Regions from separate parts of the Homo sapiens genome. Here region 1 is linked to region 2. The links come from fine-mapping of genetic effects on gene expression. A gene starts in region 2. The other region holds a variant in brackets. All regions are shown on one strand. Distances are between the middles of the regions. Region 1 overlaps ANKRD55 (ankyrin repeat domain 55). Region 2 holds the start of ANKRD55 (ankyrin repeat domain 55).

What was found. PIP is the estimated chance that this variant, and not a neighbour inherited with it, causes the effect.
Region 1: its variant is the best candidate, but not a certain one, in a credible set for the expression of ANKRD55 in whole blood (TOPMed, PIP 0.63).

Annotation. Positions count from the first base shown.
Region 1 is chr5:56,152,924-56,155,846 of GRCh38, reverse strand. All of the region lies in intron 6 of ANKRD55 (ankyrin repeat domain 55), which reads left to right. Among named protein-coding and RNA genes, the nearest start is that of ANKRD55, 79 kb to the left of the region's middle. The variant G/A (reference allele first, on the strand shown) is at 1,617.
Region 2 is chr5:56,231,893-56,234,815 of GRCh38, reverse strand. ANKRD55 (ankyrin repeat domain 55) reads left to right here and starts at 1,486. Exons shown (of 12, transcript NM_024669.3): 1 at 1,486-1,575; 2 at 1,870-1,960. The coding sequence starts at 1,903.

The DNA of each region.
Region 1 (2,923 bases), 79 kb after region 2:
GCAGGGTCTCATTCTGTGGCCCAGGCTACAGTGCAGTGGTATGGTGCGATGTCAGTGCACTGTAACCTCCGCATCCTGGGCTCAGGTGATCCTCTCACCTAGCCTCCTGAGTAGCTAGGACTACAGGCAGACACCACCATGCCAGGCTAATTTTTCCATTTTTAGTAGAGATGGCACTCATATAACTCTGAGGCACTCATAATTTTGTTTTTGACTGAGCTCCTGTACTAGGTCAACAGACCAGGCCAAATATCAAAATGGAGTCCCTCATACTTAAATTCCAAGTTACCAAACTGAGACCGAGTTGTTATCTGACCTTCTGAGAAATCAGGAGAGAGATAACACCCAAATTTCCCAAACAGGCTAGTTTTACTTAGCATAATAATGAAATTTCCTCTGCTTTTAATCCTGACAACAAAAAGTAACCTAAAGTAACCTGATGTTAAGCAATCAGTTTTTTCTCTGTTGTTCTGTTTCCCTGTTCTCATCTTTCATCTTTCAAGGAAAGTAACTTTGAAATAACCAATCTGCTTTTTGTTCTTTGCTTCTGCTTTTTTCAGTCCTTCTCTGTCTACAAAACCAACCTCCTCTGCTGGGCTCGTTGGAAAACTTTTTTTTTTTTTTTTAAGACAGTCTCACTCTGTCACTCAGACTGGAGTGCAGTGACACGATCACAGCCCACTGCAGCCTACTGCCTCAGCCTCCAGAGTAGATGGGACCACAGAAACCCTGCACCACAGGCATGCACAACCATACCCAGCTCATTTTTTGTTTTTGGTAGAGACAGGGGTCTTCCTATGTTGCCCAGACTGGTCTAGAACTCCTGGATTCAAGTGATCCTCCCGCCTCAGCCTCCCAAAGTGCTGGGATTATAGGCGTGCACCACCATGCCTGGCCAGAACATTTTGGAATGAAGCCCAGTTCTAGAATTGCAAATGAAGCCAGTTAAGATCTTTGAGGCCCGGCTCCACGGCTCACGCCTGTAATCCCAGCACTTTGGGAGACTGAGGTGGGTGAATCACTTGAGGCCAGGAGTTCAAGACCAGCCTGGCCAACATGGCCAAACCCCGTCTCTACTAAAAATATGAAAATTAGCCGGCTGTAGTGGCTCATGCCTGTAGCCCCAGCTACTCCAGAGGCTGAGGCAGGCGGTGGAATTGCTTGAACTTGGGAGATGGAGGTTGCAGTGATCTGAGATGGCGTGACTGCACTCCAGCCTAGGCAACAGAGCAAGACTCTGTCTCAAAAAAAAAAAAAAAAAACTTTAAAACTAAATCTTCTGCTGTAATTCCGTTTTTGCCAATTATTTATTTTATTTAGTTATTGGTCATTGCTAGTGAGAGCCAATCACGATAAATTTATAACAGCAAAAGCTCTTGCCATTGAGAAATAAATACAATTCTGAAATGGAAAGAACACAGCCCAGGCTTTCTTTTTCATTCATTACTTTGGTGGAGTTCCTGTATTTGGCTGCTCAATGTTTTGAACAAGTAATCTTCTCTCGTCTGTCTTTTTTCAACAAGCTCCAAGCATGATGTAGCCTCCATTGTATGAGGGGTAGCGGGGAGTAACAGTTAAATTCATTGTTTAAAAAAAGGTACCACTCTATGTGTTCT[G/A]CAACTTTTTTTTTTTTTTTTTTTTTTTTTGAGACAGAGTCTTACTCTGTTGCCCAGGCTGGAGTGCAGTGGTGCGATCTTGGCTCACTGCAAGCTCCACCTCCTGGGTTCTGCCTCAGCCTCCGAAGTAGCTGGGACTACAGGCACCCGTCACCACGCCCAGCTAATTTTTTTTGTATTTTTAGTAGAGACGGGGTTTCACTGTGTTAGCCAGGGTGGTCTCAATCTCCTGACCTCGTGACCCACCCGCCTCAGCCTCCCAAAGTGCTGGGATTACAGGTGTGAGCCACCACACCCGGCCTAACTTAGTTTTTTCAACTCAAGCATTTGTCTTAGAATTTTTGATACATATAGATCTGGCTCATTCCTTTTTTGTTGTTGTTGTTTTGTTTTTTTCGAGATGGAGTCTTGCCCTGTCCAGGCCGGAGTACAATGGTGCGATCTCGGCTCACTGCAACCTCCACCTCCCGGGTTCACACCATTCTCCTGCCTCAGCCTCCCGAGTAGCTGGGATTACAGGCACCCACCACCACGCCCAGCTAATTTTTGTATATTAGTAGAGACAGGGTTTCACCATGTTGGCCAGGCTGGTCTCGAACTCCTGACCTCGTGATCCACCTGCCTCGGCCTCCCAAAGTGCTGGGATTACAGGCGTGAGCCACGGCACCCAGCCTGTGGCTCATTCCTTTTAATGGCTTCATCATGTTACATAATATCAAAATACCCCCATTTATTTTGCCATTCCCCTATGAATGGATATTTAGGTTGTCTCAATTTTTCACCATCATAAACACCAGTCTAAAGAGTGTTTCTTGTACAAGCCTCTTTGCATACTCTGTGCAAGCATTTCTCTTAAAAGAATAATTGCTGGGTAGTAGAGAGTGTATGTTTTTATTTTTAATACACACTGCCTAATTATTCCCCCAAAATAGCTGCGTGTCGTTGTTGTTGTTGTTGTTGTTGTTGTTTTTAGTGGAAGTACTGGTTTTTTCCCAGTTGTTGCTGGATTTTCTTGTTATTTGCATTTTCCCTGATTAATGAGATGAACATCATTTCATAGACATAATGGTCTTTATTATATCTTCTTTTGTGACTTGCCTGTTTACATTCTTTGTCGATTGATCCATTGGGTTGTCATTTTCTTATTGATCTATAGGAGTTTAGTTTATATGCTGAATATTAATGCTTTGCTGTTGGGTTGTAAATACTTTTTCGTAGGCTGTTGGCTATTTTGAAATAGTTCATAGTACCTTTTCTTATTCAGAAATGTAAAAATCTGATATAATTAAAATGATCATTCTTGTCTG
Region 2 (2,923 bases):
AAAGCTATTAGAATCCTTAAATTTAATCAGATTTGAGAGCCAATTCCAGAAACCCTAGAACCAATCCTCAAGTACATGGTTTCTTGTTTAGACTAGAAAATTTCAAGGACTACAGAAGTTCTTGTCAGAAAGTTCTTACCCCATGAAGGATGGTTAATTGGGTTCCAATGTTACAATGTCAGTGAGCAGGTTGTCAGCTTGAGCAAGGAAAGTTCTTCAGTGAAGTTTCACTCATGCACTGAAATGTACTGAGCACCTCCTTTGTGCCCCTCTCTGTGCTAGGCTGTAAGGACATGGAGTGGACAAAGCAGACAAAGAAAGAGTAGACAAAGACCCTGCCCTTATGAAATGTACCCTCTTGTGGAGAAATATTTTAATTTGGGTTTCCGTAAAAGCAGACCCTGAGACAATGATTCCAATGCAAGTAACTTATTGAGAAGTGCAGGAAATATCAGTAGGAACGTGGGAAAGTAATACAGGGAGGGAACAGCAGCCCATAAAAAGAACGTTATTAGACCTATTCTCACAGGTGGCAGTGGAGTTTAACCCTGAAGGAGTTTAATCCTGAAAGGGAAATGGCAAACGGAGTAAAACACCATGCCTCAGAATCATCCTATCCAAGGGCAAAGGAAGCTGGTGTTTATTATTAGATTCAACAAGCATCTACTATATGGCTATTTGACTTATCCAAAAATCTGGTTGTGCCTAGAATATAGAACTTTGTTTGAATTTAGTATATCATATTTTTATTACAAATACAAGATAATAGATACTGGTTATTAACAAGCCAAAAATACAGAGATTGATACAGAACAAGTTAGAAATCTCCTACTCTAATCACAGTGGCCTGAGGGAACCAATATTAGCAGTTTAGTACGTATCTTTCTACATCTTTTTCAGTGTTCGTCTGAATATATAAAAATAATGTATACAGTGAGTGGTTTCCGGTTTTATTAAAACACGAACAAATGAAATATATAACTTGTTTATTTCATTTAACAATAGATTAGTGACATGTCACCAGATAAATACACAGATTTATTTATGTCAGATTTTTAAATCTAGAGTACGAATTTACTACCATTTACTTAGCTGCTCCCTGAATGAGGTACATTCGGGTGATTTTTCAGGTTTTACTACATGTAATGCTACAATAAACACCCTTGTGACAGCAGACTGTTTTAATTTTATCACCACAGACACTCGAGCCTTGAAATGTCACCTTTCAAATGACGCCTTTCCCCATCCTCCCTGTCAATTGGAGAACGGAGCTGAAAGGGGAGTGAAGAAGACTGCCAACATGGATAATTACTCCACACAGCACATGGCCAGCAGCCTCCTGCTACAATATTTACATCCTATTCCATTGAGATGGCACTCTCTGCTCACATGACCCAAATGCAGTTCTCACTCCGCCAAAAGCACAGCCGAATGCGAACTGCATTGGCAGCTTTGCACATGCTCTGTCTGGCCCTGTGAATCCTCACTCACCCATTCAGATTTCTGTTGGTGTAAAGCGACATTCCAGCTGCTGAAGCTCCGTGATCTGCTGTGTTTTTCCAGCCCAGATCCAAGGCAGGTGGCCCATACAATTTTACTATCTTTTTGGAGTTTGAGTAATTGTGTTTATTGATTTGGGGGTGGAGGGTGTATTATGCCCATGTACAGCTGATGAATGAGGCCATAGAGTAACTCTTTTCCTAGCAGGTATTTACAGGAATAGCATTTACCTATTTTCATCACCTTGCCTTGACAACAACCTGCAGCTCTGATGCACATTTAATCCTGAAACAGAGGTCTTGGCAAACGATGCTGCCTCTGACTGTCATGTTGACAGTAAGGTTTGAGATGGTGTTTTCTCCTCTCTAGAGACCTGGATGCTTTTTGCCATTCTGATGGTAAATGATGAGACAGGCTACCATGGATTTCAGCACCCCTTCTGTGTTTGATCAGCAAAGAGGTAAAATGCTGCTTTAACACATTCTTTGGTTGTTAGCATCCTTAGTCTCATGGTATGGATTTACAGTTGTAAGGAGAGAAAGAGAAGTGTGTGTGTGTGTGTGTGTGTGTTCATGTGCGTGGGTGTGCATGAGTATTTGCTATGTAGGATGTGGAAAGAGGATTTCACCTAGAAAACAAACCTGTTCAAAATGTTCACTTCTAGTTTGATAAGCATCTGAAACAGAAAAATAAGCTTATGATCTGTTGTATAAGCTTATGATCTTGTTGAAGTATTCCTACCTTCAAATTTTAAAAACTGGATTTCAAGCACACCAACTATTTCAGATAGTGTCATCTTTATTCTGTTTTTTCCAAATCTTTTTTAAAAATTAGGGTAAGCAATGTAAGAACACATCACATTTTTTTTGTCATTCGATTAGCCCAGTATCTCATTGCTGTATCTTCGTAAGCATTTTTTTATTCCTTTCAGGAATAGATGTTGCCTGTATTTATGTCGGGTTGATATGTTATCTCATCCAAGGTTGTGTAATGACATATCCCTATGCTATTATTTGCAATGCCAGGGTATATCTTCCTTACTTATAATTTCTGGAGTGGAGGTAATTTTCCACATCAAAATGTTGCTGTGAGATCAACTTATCCTTATAATATCACATATTTGGCCATGTGGTCTATGTGTATACATTTTGCATATGCAATGTGTTTATATACATCTTCGTGTAATACTTATGTGTAATAGTAAATCTTTTTTTAGTATAAACATGAAATTTCCATTTTATAAACATAATAAATATTTTTTAGAATCTTTTCTTAAATATCTATTATTTAAACCACTTTCTACAGTCTCTGAATATTCTTCAAGATCCTAAGTTCCTTTGGTGATTTTATCTGTTTTGGCTACAACATGAAATGGTGGTTTGAAAAAGCCTCATTAAGAAAATGTACTGCTTCATTCTTTTTT